Linked DNA regions of Homo sapiens. The protein of the gene in region 2 interacts with the protein of the main gene of each other region in a biochemical or structural test. Each region holds a gene or a part of one and is shown on either strand. Other genes may lie near its edges.

Region 1 (7,680 bases), on a different chromosome or scaffold from region 2:
AGGGGCTCAAGAGTGATCTTAAGACGAAGTTGGGTGCTGAGCAGGGGCTCTGTCACTCAGGGTGTCTTGGAACTTTGTTAAGGAGTTTGAATTCCATCCTCAGAGTACTGAGGAGTCACCAGGGACTCTCATCTAGGGAGCGACATGATGCTATTTGCATTTTTGGAAAATCGCTCTGGGCAGCAAGCAAAGCAGAGGATGGAAGTGACAGAGGGTCTGGGCTGAAGCAGGGCACTGAGGCCAGTCATCTTCAGATCCCCAATCCCCTCCCTTCCTGGTGCCAGGGGCGTGAGGGGCTCCCACATGGGAAGGCCTGGCCGTGCTGAGTGGAGGGAGGCGGCCTTGGCCTTGGCTTCCCTTATGCCTCTTCTCACGGGCTGCAACTTGCCTGAGTCTTCAGCAAACCTCTGCTGGCGCCGGGCCTCAGCTCTCCACTTTGGTCAGGAGAGGAGTTCCTCAGAGCGACTGGGAGGAGAGCTGCTAAGGCTGAAATGACCCAAACGCCTCCTTGAACCCAGCCAGGACTACAGGGCATGCGGGGAGCTCCCGCTTAAGGTCCCTGGAGAACACCCTGCAGCCCCACGGCGGCATCCTCCCAGCCCCTGCCTCGGTGCCTGTCCCCTCTTCTGACCCCAGCAATGTGCCCTCCTGGTGAGTGTGTTCTGGAGGAGGCTGCCCACAATTGCCAGGGTTGGGGCAGAGGGCAGTGGCAGCCGGGGCTGGCAGGGGGCGGCAGTGGGGCCGCCTGCCCCAGGCAGGGAGGAGAGGGGTTGAGTCAGGCCACGGAGGGAGCATTCTCAGGCTGGCCTGGCCAGGGCCCCTTTCTCTCCATGAGATCATATCTGGGTCAAAGAGCATGTAAAGCTGGCAGAGCTGGCGGTCACACAAAGCCCATTCAGCCCAGCCCCTATTCACTCACCTCCTCTCCCCCAGCGCCCGCGCCGCCGCGACCCCAGCACAGCGCCTAAGCCCCAGCTTTGATGTCCAAGAACAGAAAACGGCGATTAAATGTTGTTTTAAAGAGGGAGTGCTCACTGCCCTCCCATCTGTCAAGAGAAAGCTGAGGCCTGAGGGAGGGGAGGGGAGCTGGGGGAGGGGCGAGGAGGCTGTGTGTGTGTGTCTGTGTGTGTGTGTCGGGGAGTTGGAGTAGAGTGTGGGGGTGAGGAAATAGGCAGGGGCCCAAGAAAAGCCAGGATCAGGACGGCTTGGGGGAATGGTGGCAACTGCTCAAAATCAAAACACAGAATTTGGTTAAGGACTGGTTTCCCAGATGAGAAATATGTGGAGAGGGAAAATAAGGTGGGACAGAGAAACAAAAGCAAAAAGAAAGGAGAAAAGACCACAGATGAGGAAGAGAGGGGAGGAGTGGAAAGGAGAGAAAAAAGATTGGGAGAGAGGAAAAAGATGAGGGGCAGGAGGGGTCAAGAAAGCACAGCAGACGGCAAAGAGGGAGAGGAGAAAGCAAAGACAGAGAAGCAACTTCTAGGGGCTGGAGGCCCCCAGGCTGCACCTGTTCCTCCTCCTGGGAAGATTGTCCGGTGGTAGGGGTAGCTCCAGGCGGTTTCTGCTCAGCAACCCCAGGGTCAGACAGACCCGGGTCTTGGCCCCAGGAGAACAGGGCTGAAAGGTAACCCTCCCAGTGCCACCCCTGGCAGGCCAGGCCTTGTTTGGCTCCCCAGGTGGGTGGCGGTGGCGCGTGGGGTGATGGCTCCCTGCGACTCCTGGTGATGCTGGAGGCCAGGCCTGATGCTCGGTGTGGGTTTACCCTACCGGAGTGACCCAGCACGACAATCATGGCTGTGTCCCCTGGGTCTTGAGGAGGAGAGGGGTTATTTTGGTCAGAGACAGGCAGTGAGGACGGCCTCAGGCAGAGGTGCTGAAGCACCACGTCTAGGATTGAGTGGCTTTGGTTTTACAGCTAAAGATAGGGCGATGCTTCTATCCCCGATAAGAGGAACGGGGAAAGGGCCAGAGAAGAGGGCTTGGCCCAGACACAGGGAGATGAGACAGGGAGGGAATCGTACCCATTGAGTGTTGTGGAAATCCTTTATTCCGTCCATGACAATGCAGAGCTTGCACGGCCACCTCCCACCCATCCCCTCCCCTGCACAAGGCCACCTGCTCCAATCTCCTTTCTTAACAGCTCTTGGCTGCTACAGACGCAGGCAGGGACCTTTGATTGTGTGGAAGCTTCTTGTTGAGAAATTTCTGAAGCTTGCTTAGCCACTAAGGAGTCAGTTGAAAATGTCTCTCTAAAGACTAAAGAAGACGTGAGACCCCTGCTTTGAGAACTCTGGAGTAAAGGAACCTGGCCTGGTATCAGGAGAGGTGGATGGAGTTCTGACTGCTGCTCACCAGCCGTGCAATCCTGAGCAAGTTATCCTAACACAGCCACGGATTCCGACTCAGCGGCCCGCTAGCATGGTAGCCCCAGGGCGGCCAGGGTTTGTCTGTTTGTCCTTTGCTGTAATTCCCAGCGCCGACAACAGTAACTGGTACATGGTGGTCTTGCTGAATAAGTGAACAAGTGCCTACCTAGCACATTGTACCAAGGATCATACGATATTAACGTATTTAACATTTTTTAACTAAAAAGTATTAGAAAAATGTTATTCAGTGCATCTGTGCCTTGTAAATGTGGCATAAAAGTGACACATAGATAAGTCTAAATATGTGTAATACAGAGCTTTCTTTTTCCCAGTCCCCACACAAAAATCTTAATTCCTCTACCATGTTCCCCACACAAGAAAAGGCAAAAAAAACAAAAAAAAAAAACAAAACAAAACCAAGTACTTCAATAAAAAGGTGGGACGCTTCAAGCGAGAGACAACTGAATTAACTTTATTCTCTTCTAACTGCAGATTCAAGGTATACAACTGAACATTGCTATTTTTCTTATGAGACTTATAAATAAAAATACAAAAAATGTTCACTACAAAAAAATCTACTGTTAGTAGGATGTAAAAAATATTCTCTTTGCTATAGAAGGCACAAACTTCACTTAGTGACACATGGAGAGAGAAAAAAACCTGCAGCAGTAAATTCATTTTTTCTTTTTTTTTCCTTTTTTTTTTTTTTTAAATCTTGTCAGAAACACTGAAATTACAAAGAAACGCGTCAATCTACACGAAACGAAGGCAGATGCGGAAAGCTGCAACCAGGACTGCACAACTTCGAGTGAAACTGCTTCGGAACTAGAACAGATAAGGAGCGGCAAGCACAACTCGGGGAAGTGGGCTGGGGAGGGGGCAGCAGGAGGCAGGAGAGAGGGAGAGAGAATGGAGTGGACAGAAATGAGACGGGGAGCCAGAGGGAGGAGGGGAGGGCGGGAGAGGGAGATGGAGAGGGCAAGGGTGAGAGGTGGGGAGGAGAGAAAGAGAGAAAGAGATTGATTTGTACAAAAAAGTAACCAGTAAAATTGAAGAAACAAAATTGGGCAACCTCCTAAAATTAGGCTAAGAGGAGGTGCTGAGGTAGACATTAACTAGAACATTGATGAATTAAAAACACTATTCTGTAATACAGAGCAATCCGACTGGCACTTGTGCTATCACGACATAAGACAAGCCACAAAAACAAACAAATAACAAAACGAAACATAATACCCAAACCAAAAGGCTTAGTTTTGCTTGGTCCAGCAGGGCAGCAGGGCCCTCAGTGCTATAATTTACATACATATATATATATATTTATCTTTATATATACGGGTTGGATGTCATGGTGCACCACCACGGCTTCTTAACCTTACGAAGATCATGCATAACACTATGTGAACAAATCCTATGATACACACCAGGAGGCTGGTACCCTGTCTGCGAAGTTGGATGCCAAGGGCCCGGGGAGGCCGCAGCTGCTGGCTAACCGGCCTGCAGGGCCTGCACCCCTCTTTCTCCCCACCCTTTTCCCCTGACCCAACCTCTCTGGTTTGTCCTGCACCCCTCTCCTGGCCATCTCTGCCTTTTTCCTCTCCCCATCTGTCCCACCGCGTAGGGTGAGTCTCGCCTTTCATCCTCCCACTGAAATATCCAGGTAAGTGCCACCATTACAGCCAAGCCGGCAGAGGCTCCAGGAAGGAGGAGGTATGATGGGAGGGGGAAAGATGACCACAGGATGGGCCTAGGAAAAGTGAATGAACAGAGTCTCATCTTCTGCTTTTCTGTCTCACATCCTGGTGCGCCCCCAGTTTTCACCCTAGCTCGGCTTGCCGGGAAGCAGGCCCAGAAACTACCCTGACCCTGCCAGCCGTCATGGACAGAGTCGAAAGGCTGCCCCACCTCTGCTCTCTCCCCTATAGGGAGGTAAGCTCAATGGCCCTCTTCCATCCACAGCAATTGTACCAATAGCATCCAGAAAGGTACCATACACTTGTGAAAAATTGCAGCAGTTTTTTTTTCTTTTTTTTCTCAACATGGAAAAACTGTTCAGGCACAAAGATTAAACAAGCCCGCGTTGCATCCCTTGGATTGTACTGAATCACTGGGTCCCCCAGCCTCCCTACCTACCCCTGCACCCCAGATCTGCCTTCCCCATATTCATGGCCTCCTCCTCCAAAGCAGCCCAAAGCAGCAATGATATTTACTATTTTATATCAATCTCTTGCTATATATATATATATCTATATATCTATATATTTGTCTATCCTATATATACATAGGATTTTAATGCTTTGAATGAGTGAAGGAGTGAATAGGGAAAGAGCACATGAGGTGTAAATGTCACCAAATGCATTAAGGGACATATTTGTAGGAGCTGGACATGGGAAAGGGACTATTAACCAACGTGGCCTTGCCAGGCTGGAGAAGTTTTTCACTGTGCTGGATAAGGCAGTAGCAAGCAGGGTTGTCAGCAGTACCACAGCTAAAGGCAGCCAGGGGGCCGAAGGAGTCAGGTGGCATGAAGAAGAGGGGAGGACAGATATTCAGATCCCACCTGGGGAGAGACCCCTGTCTACCCTCCTCCTCTCCCCTTAACTCCAGACACATATAAAGCCTCCAGACAGCCTCTTAGCTTGCCCCCTGGCCACTAGGCCGTGCAACATTAGAACTGTTCTGTTGTTGTAGGTAGGAAGTTGGAGAAGAGGCATGTTAGACTCTATTCAGGTGTCTTCATGGGGAGAGGAAGGTACAGTAAGTTCAGAGGTGTCCCCAGACAGTAGCCCTCAGAAACCACACTCCCCTGAGCTCTCCCCATACCTCCCTACTGGGGTCTGCAGGGCCCACGGGGTTGGGTGGGGCATCCAGGTGCTGATTTAGTACCATCCATTGCTGCAACACCAGATTACGACAATACTGCATGATTTAACACACAACCACACACACAAAGCACACGCGCACACGCACATACATGTACAAAGGGATATTTTGGTGGTGGTGGATTTTTTTTTGTCTTTTGTCTTCCTATTCACATTACAAAAGGAAAGGGCAAGGTTCTGCAGAACTGACGAAGGAACTAACAGATACTACAAAAATATTACAATTTGTGAAGATTAGCTCAACCCTCTCAGCTTTTATGAATGGAGCGGGGAGGGGCCCAGGCTGAGTGGGAAGGGCATGGGAGTGAGGGGGCCAGCTAGTTCTATGGAATAGTTTGATTTTTTTCTCTTCCTTCCCCACCAATGTTGAATGACATCTTGCTGTTAAAAATACTGTTTTCTGGGATTTACAGATCCCCTGAGGGCCAGCCAGTCCCCGCTTCTTCCCAGACCAGAGGAGGAAGCCATAGTGCATAATGATTTCTTACAGACGGCCCCTCCCCCAAATGATTTCACCCTTTTCACATTATAAACATGACAACTGTTCTAGTCACGTATTTCAAGTTTAACTTCTTTTCCTTTCCAAAACACTAAGTCGTTACTATAGTTGCAAAATAGCATCCTCCCTACTTTACCATCCCTAATCCACAGTCTAGTGACACCGTCCTCCCAATTCACATCCTCCCAACACACAATTTTAAGGCCTTCAGATTTGGTGGATGAGATTGAAGGGGAGGGCAGGAGGGCTGGGGCCGAGGGACGGGGGGGTCGTCGCAGCAGCACCCATCCCTCCGGCTTCCCTACATTCCTCGTGATCCTTCTCCCCAAAACCGCTTCCCTAAACCACTTTGTAAAACCTAAGATCAAAACGCAGCCACAACTTTCTCAGAGAGAGAAAGGAAAGAAAAAATAATAATAAAAAACTCTTACACATAAAGCATGAGATGAAACGGAGGGTCCGTCCCAAAGCAAACACGAATATTGCAAATGTGCTTTCCAAAATTCAGGAGGGTCGGGGGAGGTTGGGGAAAAGAGGGAGGAAGAGCAGCAGAATGGGAGGCGGGAAAGGAACAAAAGAACAACTGGACAAACATAAGAGGTAGCTTTTAGAAAAACAACACCCCCACCCCAACACAACAAAACAAAGGCTGGATCCCGCCCCCCTCCCCAAAGACCAGCCGTGAAAATAGACCAATTCTGGCAATGAGAATGCACGCACAGAGGTGAGACCACACAGTTGCAAGGATCCAAACACAGGCCCTCAAACCTCAATGGCCCAGCAAATTGTAAGAAAGGTGGGATTCTCTCCAGAGTGTTTTAGGCGGAACGGATGGTGGCCACAGGTGACTTCATGCACCAGCGGAGCCAAAAGTGACTCCCTAGTGCCCTCTGGGGACCATGAGACCCCAAAGCAACATCCCCTCCCCACCCACGCTCTTCGCCCTCCTCGGCCCTCACATTCAGATCCTGAGTATCAACTCCTCCTGCACAGTTCCTGCCAGCTGGGAGGCTGGTCTCCAGGGGCACGGGGAGGGTCTTGACCAGCTGAAGTCTATAAAAACAACTATTAATTTACACAAGAAACAGAAAAGAACACCCTCCCCATTCCTCCAAGCCCCAACCGAAAAAGAGATACAGAGGTTAAGAAAGCTCATGAGGTCACAAAAAACTGAGGTAATTCAAGTACAATGTGCTAACAGGGGACACAGAAAAGAAGCAAAACATAACACAAGGCCAAAGCGCTTTCAAATCCTCCTCCTCCTGCAGCTCCTCCCCCTCCTTCTGCTCCTCCTCCTCCTCCTCTCCACTGTGGACCGAGGGGCGCTGTGAGTCAGGAATTCTGTGCGACTCTCTCTGGACCTGGCTTTTCTTGCTGAGCTCACTACATCTGGGGTCCCCAGTGTGACTCAACAACTTTCTCCCTTGCCCAGCTTCCCTCATCCCACGGGCTGGGTGTCCTCTTTTCCAGGTGTGGGACCCCTCTAGAGAAAGACATCCACAACCTACCCTCGGAACCTCAGCCCATTCATGGATTCCTTCTCCTGGGACTGAAGTAGGGCTACGTAGGGACTGTGGTTTGTTTGGTAGGATATTAGGTATTTAGTTGTGATGCTTTTCCATTTTGGAAGCAGCGCAGCAGGAATCTTGCTCACGATGGTGCTGGACTAGGGTGGGGTATTGGATTTGTTTTGTGTTCTCAGAAGGCTGAGGGTAGGAGGGACCCTGAAGTCAGAGGCAGCTATCCCACTAGGGAACCGGAGAAGGATGGAGACACCGCCAGGTCCCTGAGGGGCTGGGACTCCCCTGGGACTTGGAGGACAGGAGTCAAGGGGAGGCTGGGAACAAAGAGCTGGAGGAGGGGCAGGGGTCCTGAGGCTCTCAGAGACCACCGGGGGACACCCAGATGTGGCAAAGCAGAGGAAAGCAGC
Region 2 (6,169 bases):
CCCCTGAGAGCCAGGAACCCCAGGCCAAGGGGGCAGAGGCTAGTGCAGCCTCAGAAGAAGAGGCAGGGCCCCAGGCTACAGAGCCATCCACTCCCTCGGGGCCGGAGAGTGGCCCTACACCAGCCAGCGCTGAGCAGAATGAGTAGCTAGGTAGGGGCAGGTGGGTGATCTCTAAGCTGCAAAAACTGTGCTGTCCTTGTGAGGTCACTGCCTGGACCTGGTGCCCTGGCTGCCTTCCTGTGCCCAGAAAGGAAGGGGCTATTGCCTCCTCCCAGCCACGTTCCCTTTCCTCCTCTCCCTCCTGTGGATTCTCCCATCAGCCATCTGGTTCTCCTCTTAAGGCCAGTTGAAGATGGTCCCTTACAGCTTCCCAAGTTAGGTTAGTGATGTGAAATGCTCCTGTCCCTGGCCCTACCTCCTTCCCTGTCCCCACCCCTGCATAAGGCAGTTGTTGGTTTTCTTCCCCAATTCTTTTCCAAGTAGGTTTTGTTTACCCTACTCCCCAAATCCCTGAGCCAGAAGTGGGGTGCTTATACTCCCAAACCTTGAGTGTCCAGCCTTCCCCTGTTGTTTTTAGTCTCTTGTGCTGTGCCTAGTGGCACCTGGGCTGGGGAGGACACTGCCCCGTCTAGGTTTTTATAAATGTCTTACTCAAGTTCAAACCTCCAGCCTGTGAATCAACTGTGTCTCTTTTTTGACTTGGTAAGCAAGTATTAGGCTTTGGGGTGGGGGGAGGTCTGTAATGTGAAACAACTTCTTGTCTTTTTTTCTCCCACTGTTGTAAATAACTTTTAATGGCCAAACCCCAGATTTGTACTTTTTTTTTTTTTCTAACTGCTAAAACCATTCTCTTCCACCTGGTTTTACTGTAACATTTGGAAAAGGAATAAATGTCGTCCCTTTAGTGGTGCTTTAATGAGTGGTCTTCTGGGGGTAGGGTGAGAAGATTGGTGGAAAGTAGTTTACCTCAAACCTCAAGGGAGGAGTTAAGGCAGGCAGGTAAGTTTATGGGGTTTTCTTGTTCAGGGGGTTGCCCCAATACTCATGGACACCAGAACGGCAGGGAAGTAGAGTTGAAACCAACCCAGGGACACATAGGAAACAAGCTCAGGAGGATATAGAAATGTACCATTTTATTACAAAGAGGCTCACAAAAATGAAAATAGTATCTCAAAAAGGAAACTAGACTAGCAACCTCCACCTGCAGAATTAGGAGAAGACAGACAGAGGGCAGGCAGTGTTTCTTGGCTCACTTGAGGCCAGTGGGAAGGTACGAAAACAGAACCAATCTAAAAATGGCTGATGTTACTTTAGGAGCCTGAAAAAAACAGGAGATCCTTGAAGACCCAGCCACCCCTTCTAGAATGTTCAATAAGGGCACCTTTCCAAAGCTACTAAGCAGGCACTTGGCATTTCAGGAGTTTGTCTTATGGTTGCATAAAAGTATCCCTTTCACCCAGACCTGGCACCCTTTATGGTTCAAAGTTAAGAACGGGAAGAATGGGTGGCAAGGTGGCTCCTGGAAGAGCTCACCCAGCACAGCTGCCCTGAGCTCGGGGCCTTGGTTTCTGTCCCTGGGGATATTTATATTTAATAAATTTTTATATAAATACACAGAGAAATAGAAAATATAAAATCTGAGGGGTTGGGGAAGAAACGTGAGGGACTCAGCAGGAAGCCAGAGCTGGAGAGGTCCATTCAGGCCAACTTGACCTCCTCCTTGACCCTGTGGAGAGAGCAGAGACTGGCATGAGATGACCCAGCCCAGAGCCTCAGGGCAAAAGTGCAGACAGTGACTTCCACAGGATCCTAGGTGACTACTGGGGGCTGGGGCTCCTAGCTCTGCCTAGAACTGCAGAGCTGGACAGACTGGTCCCTGAAAGAGGCCTTTGTAAGCTGGACCAGCTGTCCCTGTGCCTTTCCTCAGAGTGGTGGGACAAAGGGGCTGGTGCTCCAATGCCAGGGAGATGGCCACAGGCAGCTCCTTCCTCACCCTTTGGCTTCTGGCTTCTCCTCCTTGGTTTTCTCCTCTTCGGTGACTTCTAGAACACAAGAGTACAGGGATGGCCAAGGGCAGCACCTCTGGGAAGACCCATGAGGTCTTCATTTACCCTGAGACCCCTTCCCCAACACTACAGCTCACTGGACATAAAGAGAGAAAAGCCCATCCCTGGTCCTCCCAGTGAGCCCTGTTGAGAACAGGTTGGACTGGTTTCCCAGCCTGCTACAGCCAGAACCTGGTGGGCGGAGGCAGCCCCCTGGGAAACTGGGGTGCAGTGCTGGGAAAAGGGCTGGGGTGGTATGTGAGAGCCGTGCTCAGGCAGTAGAGGTTCATTGTTTTGTGGGCTCTGCCACTTCTGGGAGCCACTGAAAGGCTCAAGGAACTGAGGAAGAGCCCCACAGGAGCTGGCAGGGCCTGAGTCACTCCCTCCTCCCACTGCCCTACATAGATTCATCCTCTCAGGCTCGAGACCCAAGTCCCAGCTGAACCCAAACCCACCTTTCTTCTCCTCTGGGTCTTTCTCTTTTTCATCCTCTGTTTTGACTCTCTTGGCTTTTTTGAAGTTGGAAGAGTTCTTGCGGCCCCCCTCTCCCTCCTCTTCAGAATCGGAGAACTCTTCCTCACAGGCAATTCGTTTGTCAGAGGAGCAGACTGGGAGGGAGTGGGAAGCATGGGTGAGAGGGCAGGCGGGTGCTGATTTAGCTCAGCATCTATGCCCAGTGCTTCCCTGCGTGTCCTCCAAGAGACACCAAGGGAAAGGGAACCAGAAGAGGGAGGAACTCGGGCTCCCTAACCTGTTCCTACAGGCACTGGAACTCGAAAACAGATTTCTCTACAGGTGGGGAGCTTGGAGGGAGTGTGCAGCCAGGAATGGTGGTGGAAGTGTGAGCTGCCTATTGAATGGAAGGCATAGGGCTCTAGGTCTGGGTCTCACTCGAGATGCGCTTGTCAGGGTCGTCTTCGTCCTCATCGCCACTCTCCTCAGGGATGGCGTCCTCAGGAATCGCCTGCATTTGGACCCCAGGTGCGTGCGGCAGCATTCTAAGGTTCTCAAACAGTCGCTGTCTGTGGCCAATGGGAGAGAGTAGCAGGGCTCTGGTCAGGGACAAACCAAAGTCAGGAATGTTCAACCAAGGGGTGGCTGGAGGATATACTCACTTGATCTTCTCCAGGTACTCATTCGTGTTCTGGTTAGTCATATTGGAAGGACTGATGTGGAGCTTGAAATCTGGTCCAAAGTATTCAAAGTAGTCATTGTATGGAAGCTCTGATTGGGGCAGGAGAGAAGACCGTCAAGAGACCTGGCCACCGCACCCTAACCATTTGCACGTAAGCACCCTAAAGCATTTGTAGGTTTCTCTGGGCCTATTTATCCAAACAGAGGAGAATGCCTCCAAGACACTGTGAGACACGGGTACCTATGGGATTTCCATCTTTTTAACATCACTCTCCTATGTCTGTACCAGTGGTGTATATGTCGCTAGGAGAAGGCCCATGTCCCTGGTTTAGGACACTTGAGGCCATGCTCATTATGAGCGCTCCCTTCACTCGCTACTCCAGTTACTCTACAGAGTAGAAATTCCAAAGCTGTAAATTACCAATGAGAACTTTGTCCAGACCAAAAGCAGGAGGGAGAGGGGAGAGAGCTAAAAAGGACTAGGGAAAAAGTGATGGTTATGGTCTGCTGATCACAAGAGGACAGGCAGGAGACTCAGTGACTAGTATCAGAAGAGGAGCGGTCATATGACCAACGGGGAAGGGGTTATAAACTTAAGGACAGATGAGCTCCAGCTCCCACCCAGCCCAGCCGAACCTGGCCCTGCAGCTATTACCATTAGGGATCTCCGTATCCAGGGCCACAGCTGTCTCATATGTCCAGCACCGGGCAACGTTACGAATGGTGTAACCACCGCCTCCCAGCATCAGCATAGGCAGGTTAAAGCTCTTGACAAATTCCACACACTTGGCGTGTCCTTTGGTGGGAGAAGGGGTGCTGAGTTACAGGAGCACCAAGCAGGACCCCGCCCACCCATCCTTGTGCTACCTGGTCTCACCTTTGATAGTTAGATTGAAGCAACCTAACCGATCCCCAGATAGGGAGTCTGAGCCACACTGTAAGACCACCGCACTAGGCTGGAACATCTCCATTACTTTGGACATGACCTAAAATGATACATCCTGGTCACCACCAACCTCAAGAAAGCAATACGAGGTTTGGAGTGGAAAGGCTGGGTGCAACACTTTCCCACCCACTCCTACCTTTCCACTCTCCCTCATGCTATGTGGGAGAGAAAAGGGAGTGCTAGGCTGGAGCCCTTGCTTGCCCACTTGGGATTTCAATTTTCCAATTTAAAAAGTTCTCTAAGACCCTTCTAACACTCTAGTAACACTGAACCTAGAATGGCCTCCCTCTCAACTCCCTAAGTCTCTTCTGTTGCCCAAGCTCTAGTGCCACTTCCTCCAGGAAGCCTTCCTGACCTTTAGCTGCATCTACTCTACTCATTCGGTCTTACAGACTTGAAGCCTTACATTATGAGCAAGCACTTTTAGTTTATCTTATTCTCACAAGCAGAGTCTAACGTTACTGAGACCGAGACCACAACTCCCACTTCTGTAGCCCTTATTAAATACTAGGCACATAGTGGGCAGTCAGTGTTTGCTGAATGACTACCTGACCTTATTAGGTTAAGCAGTTTCTTACTGTTTATAAGTGAAGATTTAACTCCTTGGCATGGCATTCAAGGCTCCCTTTGAAATACTGAGCCCAGCATACACTTCCCACCGCCTCCTTCAGCACTCCTCCCATACACCACACTGGCCTACATGCTGCCACACTGGCACCTCTGCACTTCTGCTAGTGCCATTCCTTCTACTAAATGCCACCCTTACTGCCATCACCTCCTTCTTCACATGGGCACCTCCTCATTTTCCAAAGTCCAGCTTAAACATCAGCACCTCTGTGAAATCATCCCTGGCTACCCTCCTGCCAGCCCAGGCAGTAGTTTGTCTCTCATTCCTCTGATCATCCCTCAAAAACACAGGCACTAGGCCAGCCTACCCATGGAACATGCCACACAGCCTTTCCAGAATCTCTGGATGGGCTGACTGGCAAAGGGCTTTCCCAGACAAAGCCAGTCTGCAAAGACTGGAGTAAGTCCCTACTTCTTCTAATGTGCAGACATCAATGTAAGGCAATGAGGAACACAAAAAACCAAGGAGACATACCACTACCAAAAGAACACAATAATCTCCCAGCAGCCCAAAGAAATGGAGATACAAAAACAGTACTAATCATAGACTACTGGGTATGTGCCTGCCTTCCCCACCATAGTCCGTGAGGGCAAAGATCATGTCTTAGATATTTTTGTATCCAGCAGAAGACCTGACCCATAGAAGGAACCAATAAATATGGGTGTTTGTTCCCCTAACTGACCACACAGCAATCCAGGGTTCAAACACTTCTATCTCCCCACCAGCTTTAGTAAGGAGAGATTCCTGAGGTATGGTGGGGGTGCTTTGCTCCCCTCCACCGCCAACCAATCCCCTGTTTGTAGCCCAAGGGGTGGATAAAGCCACTTACCGGCTTGAAAATGGCCTCATAGGACTCGTCATCAATCCCGTCTCGGAGCGGGTAGTTAACAGCATAATACTTGCCTTTGCCAGCCCCGATATCCTAATTAAAAAGGCCATTAAAGTAAAACTGAAGGATGAAGCTTGAAGGAAGGTCAAGGATAGGGGCTGGAGGGATAAAGGAAGAGGTTCAAGAGAGACAAGCTAGGCCCATGATGTGGGCCAGGACAGAACAGAGGTACCTTGTTAGTACCATTCTCTTCACTGGCAAATCTAGCTTCACTGGCAAATCATCTCTGGACATAGCATTAAGCCTACCCCCAGACTGAGAGCTCTTGATGGGACCAGAGATTGAATAGCCTACCCTATAGCACAAGATTTCTACCTTGGGATTGGGTTAGAGCTGGCTGGCAGGTGAGTCACAGAAGTGACAGCCACCCTTGACAACCCTTTCCACTCCAGAGAGCTCTAATGCTCACTCCTCTTCCCCCATGCTCCCTCTCTAGGGTGTTGTGGAGGGAAGGAGAGAGGTAAGAAAGTCCTTCCCAGTAACCTCAAAATAGTGAGTGCGCCTATTTAAGTCCAGCACTTTGGGAG
Region 3 (9,125 bases), on a different chromosome or scaffold from region 2:
ATGGACTATCCCCAGAGCTTGCCCTGGAGGGCAAATAGATTAAGCCTATACATTTGAAAGCCATTTACCTTCAAAGAGGCCTGTTAAAAATCAGCTGCTGCCAAAGTGTGGCTAGATTGAAACAGTCTTGCAAAATGTTTTTAGTTCCTGCTAAGTGCCAACACTGGACCAAGCACTAAGGGACAAGAATATATAAAAATTATTCTCCGGCCGGGTGCGGTGGCTCACGCCTGTAATCCCAGCACTTTGGGAGGCCAAGGCGGGCGGATCACAAGGTCAGGAGATCGAGACCATCCTGGCTAACACGGTGAAACCCCGTCTTTACTAAAAATACAAAAAAATTAGCCGGGCGTGGTGGTGGGCGCCTGTAGTCCCAGCTACTAGGGGAGGCTGAGGCAGGAGAATGGCGTGAACCTGGGAGGCGGGGCTTGCAGCGAGCCGAGATCACGCCACTGCACTCCAGCCTGGGCGACAGAGCAAGACTCCGTCTCAAAAAAAAAAAAAAAAAAAAAAATTATTCTCTTGGGGAAAGCTGTCTCTTGTTGGAGACAAACGTATTTAGAACAAACCTTAATACAAGCCAGCTCCATGTCATGTGCCAATAAAGATGTAAACAGTTTGGGATTAGAAAGAATAATTGAAAGGTATAAGTTTTTCTAATTCTAGGATTTGAAACACACGTATTTTAATTGGCCTAATTTAAAAAAAAAAAAAATACAATGGGCCAGGCGCGGTGGCTCACGCCTGTAATCCCAGCACTTTGGGAGGCCGAGGCGGACGAATCACGAGGTCAGGAGATCGAGACCATCCTGGTTAACACGGTGAGGACCCGCCGTCTCTACTAAAAATTCAAAAAATTAGCCGGGCATGGTGGCAGGCGCCTGTGGTCCCAGCTGCTCGGGAGGCTGAGGCAGGAGAATGGTGTGAACCCGGGAGGTGGAGCTGGCAGTCAGCAGAGATCGCGCCACTGCACTCTAGCCTGGGCGACAGAGTGAGACTCCATCTCCAAAAAAAAAAAAAAAAAAAAAAAAACCTATTTGGGAATTGTTTGAAATACTTCTTATTTCTATTACAGCTGCTGGTAATAGATTCCTGTAATTTGAATTGATGCTGATAATTTGACCGTTTATAAGTCATTTTGTTTGTGTCCACAGAAATCAAGATGACTACCAGCTGGTTCGAAAATTAGGCCGAGGTAAATACAGTGAAGTATTTGAAGCCATCAACATCACAAATAATGAAAAAGTTGTTGTTAAAATTCTCAAGGTGAGTACAAGAGATAATTTCAGAGGTATTTGGAATATAGATTTTTAAAAGTAGTTTTGAAGACTTTTTTAAAACAGCATTTAAAAGGTTTTTGGTGCCAAAGCAAATAAATAAAATTTTATTGTATCCTATGAACTCAATAGAACAAGTTCTGCTTATTTGACAGATCGGGAAACTGAAGCAAGAGAAGTGATTTGAGTTGACTCATATAGCTAGGTTGTGGCAGAGTAAGGGAGCAAAGGTACAGTCTCTTCTCTCCCAGTTATTGCCTAATACTTATTTCCTTTACTTTTCATTATATAATGAGGCTTTTGTTTTCAATAAATAAATCATTGCCTCTACTTTGTAAAGATGAGGAGTCACAGGACTCGAGGGGGACAGACAGATGATATTAGTGCAGCTAGTCGGGTGTAATTGCCCTTGCTTAGGTGATGTGAGTGGTAGGGACTGAAACAAACTGGGAAACACATGCCTCTTCAAAAGGAGTTAGCTGCTTCTCAGCTGAAGCTGATGATTGCCCTGCAGTAATGCAAGTCCATTGTTGCTTGATACTCTGTTTTGCAAATAAAAGCCAGAAATTTATATTTGTATATGAATTTTCCTGACTTTTAAGTGTTGGCTCAAGATTTTAAAAAAACAATGCACAGGCCAGATTTGGCCTCTGGGAGACCAATATACAACTTTTAATTTAGTTATAACTATGCTGTGCACTGTCATATATTGGGAACTTAGCATATAGTTCCTTACCACAGGAACTTTTTCATATTTGACACTGAAAAGTAGAAGTTTCCAAACTTTCTCAATTTATAACACTTATACTGTCTTTAATTTTTCACGGTACTCCTAAGTCAAGAAATACCTCATAGTTCTCTGTATTAAGTAGCAAGGTCCAAATAGCTAAGTAAGTTTTGTTTTTTTTATTGTTTTTGTTTTTGTTTTGAGAAGGAGTCTCGCTCTGTCGCCCAGGCTGGAGTGCAGTGGCGCGATCTCGGCTCACTGCAACCTCCGCCTCCTGGGTTCAAGCGATTCTCCTGCCTTAGCCTCCCAAGTAGCTGGGACTACAGATGCACGCCAGCAATGCCCGGCTAATTTTTGTAATTTTAATAGAGACGGGGTTTCACCATATTGGTCAGGCTGGTCTCAAACTCCTGACCTCAGGTGATCCGCCCGCCTCGGCCTCCCAAAGTGCTGGGATTACAGGCGTGAGCCACTGCGCCTGCCCGCTAAGTATTTATATCTTAGCAACTTGGTAGCCATTTAAAAAGTTATTCACATAAATTAAAAGAAAAAAGTTAAATTTGTTCTTATATAACTATAATTTGTTACTGTTGGGTTATGTAGACCTGTTGCTGCATAGCTTTTCAAATGTTGTCATTGGTTGGACACCACCACCCTCATTTCCTGTCATTGATTTTTGTGCAGTACTTGCTTTTTACCACAGCAACTACTGCAAACCCAGCTTCACAAAAATATGCCATCGCGAGGAGTATAACACAATCCATCACGAGGAGTGTAACACAATCTAATGTTGAAACTACGAACCACCTCAAGCTGGCAGTGCACCCAGTGTCTGGCAGATTCAACGATGGGTTGATGTGTCTTCCTCAAAAATGTAAAGTGTTCCACAGTATTCCTGTGCATTGCTGGGGTGCTTCACATGCCCTTTGAGAACCAGAGAGTTTAAGTATTTATATCTGTCTTGAAATATGTAGAAAGAGAACTAGGTTGGAAATCAAAACATGTGGGTGACTAGCCATAGTAGTCCTTTTAACCTAGGACATGTTTATCCATCTATTAAAAAGAATGTTGGCTGAGCATGGTGGCATGTGCCTTTAGTCGCAGGTCCTCGAGGGGCTAAAGTGGGAGGATCGCTTGAGCCTGGAAGTTGAAGGTTGCACGGATCTATGATCAAACCACTGCACTCCAGCCTGGGCGATGAGAATGAGACCCTGTCTCAAAAAACAAAAAGGATCAAACACAAAATTGTGTGTATATATACATACGTTGGAGACTGGAGTTCTTTGTGATTGTATGGTGATATTCATATGGAAAGGTATATGATAGAATGAGGTGATATATTATTATTTAGAGCCACATGAAAAGCATGCATAGTGGGTCTACAGTTCAGAAGAGGGTAGTAGTTAGGAAAAGCTCCCAGGAGCTGTCTTCAGGCTGAATGGGAGGAGGATTTGGATAGGTGTTGGGTGGAAGTGGTGAAGGGAAGCAGGCTGTAGAGTGCACCAAGATAAGAAAAGAGGAGGAGGGAAAAGTGAGAGAAATATTTCATGTGAAAGATGTTATGTGACCATACATAGGAGTTGAACTTGGAAAGAGAGATTAAGTTGGCGAAGGCCTGGAAAAAATAATCTCTGCATTTCCTTGCAGTCTTAAAATTATATGACTATCTCTTCTAGGTAATTGTGAGCCCTTGATGATTTTGAATGAAGGGTGATTTAGAAAGATTTTTTTCAGCTCAGTCTTTCTAACTGTATTGTATATTTTACTGTAACTGTGGGTAGGTGGTGTAAGTATAGATGAATTTCCTTTGTAAACCATATTTAAAATTTTTAATCTCCCCTATTTAATAAGACAAAAGTTGCATTGATCGCATTAAATTCGGGCCTGAGTCAGCTGCCTGGTCTGTCACAAACCAGCTTTTTAAGTTTATAGATTTGAAGCATTCTGTAGAGTAGTTTTGTCAACCAGAAGCTTTTTTTTTCCACTAAAAAACCAGCAGTTGGGTTAATGGAAAACAGGAGGTAAGTTGTTGGGTTAGTCTCTGCAGGGTGGAAAGATCTCCCAGATAATATAACAGTTTATAAAGATCTGAATAGTTGAAGCAGGAAGAGAAGACTTATATTATCTTGTTTCTTAGGTAGATATTGTATTGGGTAAGAGGTCGTGGGTTGAATTCAATGGACTACATGGAAGTCATTAGTAAAATAGCTTCTGTTTATTGGGTACCACTTTGCATTGGACCTGTTCTAACTGTGGTATGTAAATCACTAACAGGCGAGTATAGTCCCTTTCAGCAGTGAGAAACATTTAAATGCTTTTCTGAACACTGCACAACCACAAAGCCAGGTTTTGAGAACTGTCAATGTTTCCAAAATCTGCTTGCTTTCTGCTATCATGTGCTTGAGGCTTAAGACAAAGTTAAAAGAATTTATAGTATTATTTGGTAGTTTCTGGACCTGGATCATCAGCCTGGAAAGTATCTAAAAATAAATCCCCCGTTTCCCTCTCAAGATTTTGATTTAGTGAATCTTGGTGGGTTCTGTGAGTCTGTATATTAAAAAAATCCAGGTGATTGTTGGTCATCAAACTTTAGTAACCACCAATCTTGTTAATGAAGAGATGAGATGTACTTAACTTCTAAGAGTTATATGCAGTGCATCTAGTCTGAGGTGACCAACACCCTAGGAAAAGACCTGCACAGTCCAGTACAGCAGGCACGCAGGCCACATGAGGCTGTTAAGCACTTGAAATATGGCTGGGCTGAATTGAGATATGCTGTAAGAGTAAAATACATTAGATTTCAAGGGTTTAATACAAAAAAAGGTAAAATAGATTAATAATTTTTATATTGATTTATATGTTAAGATTTTAGATTAATAAAGTACATTAATTTTGTCCTTTTTAAAATTTTCTTGATGTGGCTACTAACACATTTAAAATTACACATGTGGTTTGTATTATATTTCCTTTGGGCCAGCACTGTTTTAGACTATTCAGGAGAAGGCTTTATAATATAAGCCCAGGCACAGTGGCTCATGCCTATAATCCCAGCACTTTGGAAGGCCAAGGCAGGCGGATCATGAGGTCAGGAGTTCGAGACGATCCTGACCAACATGATGAAACCCTGTCTCTACTAAAAATACAAAAATTAGCTGGGCATGGTGGCTGGCGCCTGTAATCCCAGCTACTCGGGAGGCTGAGGCAGGAGAATTGCTTGAACCCGGGAGGCGGAAGTTGCAGTGAGCTGAGATCATGCTACTACACTCCAGCCTGGGCGACAGAGCAAGACTCTGTCTCAAAAAAAAAAAAAGGCTTTATAAAGGAGGTGCAGTGGGACCAAGGCCCTCCTCAGAAAAAAATGAAAAGGATTCCATACTAGAACAGATGTGGAAAGAATGGGTAAGGACAAAGGAATGTTTAAGATATGCTCTGCAGAATACTCTTTAGAATGGAGGGGTTCATTTATAAGAGTATTGGCACTTTGGGAGGCCGAGGCAGGCAGATCACGAGGTCAGGAGATCGAGACCATCCTGGCTAACACGGTGAAACCCCGTCTCTACTAAAAATACAAAAATTAGCCTGGCCTGGTGGCGGGTGCCTGTAGTCCCAGCTACTCGGGAGGCTGAGGCAAGAGAATGGCGTGAACCCAGGAGGCGGAGGTTGCAGTGAGCCAAGATTGCACCACTGCACTCCAGCCTGGGTGACAGAGCAAGACTCTGTCTCAAAAAAAAAAAAAAAAAAAAAAGAGCATTGGTGATCAGGCTAGACAGTTATTATTATGTTATGTTTCAGCCATATTCCGAAATCTTTCGAATACCTCATTTGATTCTTGCAACAATCTTATGAGATGGGTACTCTTGTTACTCATTTTACACTTAATGAAAGGCTTAGAGAGGTTATGTAGTTTGCCATTAACAGCCAGCAGGTAGTAAAGGTAGGTTTCACATTGGGCATTGTGACTCCAAGACTCACCCTTTACCCTCAGGGTTGTGCTACACAAAGATGTTTTGGCCATCCTTGTTGTTGGCCCTAATTAGAGGAAGAAATGGAAAGGGCCCATGTTTCATCCTAATTGATAAAAAGTTTGATATACTTTAGTATTACTAACGATTTAAATTGCTACTTTGTAAGGTTTTAAGACATTAACATGTTTAACATGTTTTAAAACATTAACATCAAGACTGATGATTGAAATGCTAATTCTGCAGAAGTGTCTGGTCTTTGGAATAGAAATCTTTTTTTCTTTCAATTCAACATTTGTAAGTACCTGCAGAATACCTGGCACAGTGCTAGGAGAAGGATTCAGAGACGAATGTGACACATTTTCTTCCTTCAAGGTGTGCTCATAAGTAAGCCATTTATCATTTATGTATTACACTACGTGTTGAAATACTCTGAAAAAATTTTTTTTTTTTTTTTTTGCTGATGTACTTTTCCCCTTTCAGCCAGTAAAAAAGAAGAAAATTAAGCGTGAAATAAAGATTTTGGAGAATTTGAGAGGAGGTCCCAACATCATCACACTGGCAGACATTGTAAAAGACCCTGTGGTGAGTATAGTAGGTGTTAGCAAGGCCCGCCAGAGCTGAGATGGTGTTTGACCTGGAGCACAACTGGCCTCTTTTTGTTCCCTCCCCCAACCCTCATCATTAAGTCCTGCTTTGAAAGTGCTTAATCAGATATACCATTTAACTAGCTTGGGTCTTTCTTTCAAAGAGACCTCCACCCACAGACTATTTCTTATTCTTCTAGGCTAAGAGACTGATAGCACTGGAAACTGAAATGTGTTAATCCATTTTGCAAACTCAGGTCCGATGCCGATGGGCGATGGGCGCATTGTCGGGCTGCCTAGAGCCTGGTGAGACTTCAGCTCCATGTCTTCTGTTTGAAATCCATCCCAAAAATGACCTAAGTGCGGTGATGATCAGAGCGGGGAGGGCTTGTAGCAATAGAGGGTTTCTTACTACTGAGGCGAGGACTGCCAAATTTCACCACGCAGCATCCGCAAACATTGTCCCCATTAAAGCTGTCAGGGCTATTGCTAATGTGTGTTTTTGTTTTTGTTCTTTTCCCCTAGTCACGAACCCCCGCCTTGGTTTTTGAACACGTAAACAACACAGACTTCAAGGTATAATATATAACCAACTGTTTCGGGCTAGTGGGTTTTTAGACCACATAGCCTTTGGGGATGATGCTGTTAGAAGAGCTTGCTTCGCATTTGTTTTTAAAAAGCTTTTCATCCTTACAGTGCAAATTTTAAGATAGAAGAACTCCTATATAAGCAGTGCCCACTTTCTGCATCTTGATATTTTGCCCATTTGTTTAATGTTCTTTTTAATGACCAACACATTGACTTCTCACTACTTAGTTGACAGTTTCTGCTGATGTCCAACCTAATGAAGGCAGTAACACACGTTCACTTAGGATCTGGCCATATGGCAATTCGCTTTAAACAATAGTGTTCAGGAAGAAATATATTGTATGTATAAAAGTAGGGACTGCTTATTTCTTAGGATTCCTCATAAACTGTGGGCTATAGATCTTAAAAGGCAGGGATCGAGGAAGGATAATGTCAAATTCTGCCATAACACAAACCTCTATAAGAGATATCTCAGAATTCCAGTCTATCCAGTGGCCTACTTATTTCACACAGTTCCAATTTTACAGAAGAATATAGCTACTCTTTTGGAGTAAAAGTAAAAATCTTCGATTTGCCTTTCCACCAGTCCAGTATCCAGAATGTTATATATTAATAAATTAGTGAATTCTGTTGCAGAGATAGGGAGAAAGGAAGAGGAACTGCTTTAGAGTCAGAATGATAATTTCAAGAAAAACTTTGTCAGAAGACGTTGCTAACCATTAAAGAGACGTACCTGTGGCTGGGCATGGTGGCTTTCGCCTGTAGTCCTAGCTACTGGGGAAGCTGAGGTAGGAGGATCGCTTGAGCCCAGGAGTTTGAGGTTGCAGTGAGTTATGATTGCAGCACGGCACTCCAGCCTGGGCAGCAGAGTGAGGACCCTGTCTCAAAAAAAAAAAAAAAAAAAAAAGATATGTCCATGTAAAAAACATTCTGCAACTCTTTGGAAACTGGAAAGGATACATAACAGTTGTTCAGAGTTTACTTTCCAATTGGAACAAGAATAGTTTTGTTAAATTGACTCAACAGGTTTGGTATCATGCCATCTGCATACCCACTGGTGATCTGCAGGGCCAACTATGTAAGGCAAAGATGAGTTAGTTCCCTACTAAGGAGGCAGTATATTTGCCAAAATGCCTCTTTTGAGAAGGTCTGAAGATACATGAAAAGCAAACTAAATTATAGGTGGGTGTCAGTGCATATTAACGTATCTAGATCAGTATGTTTCTGACAGTGGATTATAGCTTCCGCAATATATGTTTAAGTAATTCTTCATTTTTAAGAGTTGAAGACCCAAAGTATCTCTTTAAAGTTAATGTAATGTTGGAGAAATAGAGGGCAGTGAATGGACAGATCTTGGAACAACGGTAAATGAGCCAAGTCTTGGTTTGAATTACTGTGAGTGAGGGTGAAAAATGCCTTTCTGTCAGCATTATTTCATGGCTCAAACATTTGTCTTTAACAGCAATTGTACCAGACGTTAACAGACTATGATATTCGATTTTACATGTATGAGATTCTGAAGGTAAGTGAACCTTGAATACTAAATATTTTTTAAATTGGTCTTCTTTTTGTTAAATAGTCAATTGATGGTAGAAAAGCCAGCAGATTAACTTTGTAAAGTATGTTGAAAGAAGGGACCTCTATATAAGTTTTTAATAAGTTAATAGTATCATACCTGTAATCCCAGCACTTTGGAAGGCTGAGGCAGGAGGATTGCTTGAGGCCAGGAGATCAAAAGACCAGCCTGGGTGACATAGTGAGATCCCCATCTCTACAAAAAAAAATTGTTTAATTACCTGGGCATGGTGGTGTGCACCTGTAAGTCCCAGCTACTTGGGAGGCCAAGGCAGGAGGATTGCTTGAGGCCAGGAGATCAAGACCAGCCTGAGCAACATAGTGAGACCCTGTCTCTACAAAAAATTTAAAAATTAGCTGGGTATGGTGGCTTATGCTTGTAATTCCAGCTACTTGGGAGGCTGTGACA

The links. Proteins that work in one complex are often made in the same cells at the same time.
Region 1: the proteins of HDAC1 (region 2) and ZBTB16 form a complex in vitro, tested with the Homo sapiens proteins (5 studies listed by BioGRID).
Region 3: of the proteins of HDAC1 (region 2) and CSNK2A1, one has a biochemical effect on the other in vitro, tested with the Homo sapiens proteins (3 studies listed by BioGRID and IntAct).

What each region holds. Positions count from the first base shown.
Region 1 is NC_000011.10:114,251,118-114,258,797, reverse strand, and holds the end of ZBTB16 (zinc finger and BTB domain-containing protein 16), read right to left. Parts: 3' UTR 2,033-7,680; downstream 1-2,032. UniProt on the Homo sapiens protein: Acts as a transcriptional repressor. Transcriptional repression may be mediated through recruitment of histone deacetylases to target promoters. May play a role in myeloid maturation and in the development and/or maintenance of other differentiated tissues.
Region 2 is NC_000001.11:32,328,574-32,334,742, reverse strand, and holds the end of HDAC1 (histone deacetylase 1), read right to left. Parts: intron 5,676-6,169; coding exon 5,583-5,675; intron 4,166-5,582; coding exon 4,057-4,165; intron 3,976-4,056; coding exon 3,835-3,975; intron 3,270-3,834; coding exon 3,161-3,269; intron 3,068-3,160; coding exon 2,937-3,067; intron 2,654-2,936; coding exon 2,501-2,653; intron 2,043-2,500; coding exon 1,994-2,042; intron 1,727-1,993; coding exon 1,699-1,726; 3' UTR 1,117-1,698; downstream 1-1,116. Other genes in the region: MARCKSL1 (MARCKS-related protein), read left to right, coding at 1-146. UniProt on the Homo sapiens protein: Histone deacetylase that catalyzes the deacetylation of lysine residues on the N-terminal part of the core histones (H2A, H2B, H3 and H4).
Region 3 is NC_000020.11:497,259-506,383, reverse strand, and holds part of CSNK2A1 (casein kinase II subunit alpha), read left to right. Parts: intron 1-1,154; coding exon 1,155-1,266; intron 1,267-6,449; coding exon 6,450-6,551; intron 6,552-7,078; coding exon 7,079-7,129; intron 7,130-8,603; coding exon 8,604-8,663; intron 8,664-9,125. UniProt on the Homo sapiens protein: Catalytic subunit of a constitutively active serine/threonine-protein kinase complex that phosphorylates a large number of substrates containing acidic residues C-terminal to the phosphorylated serine or threonine.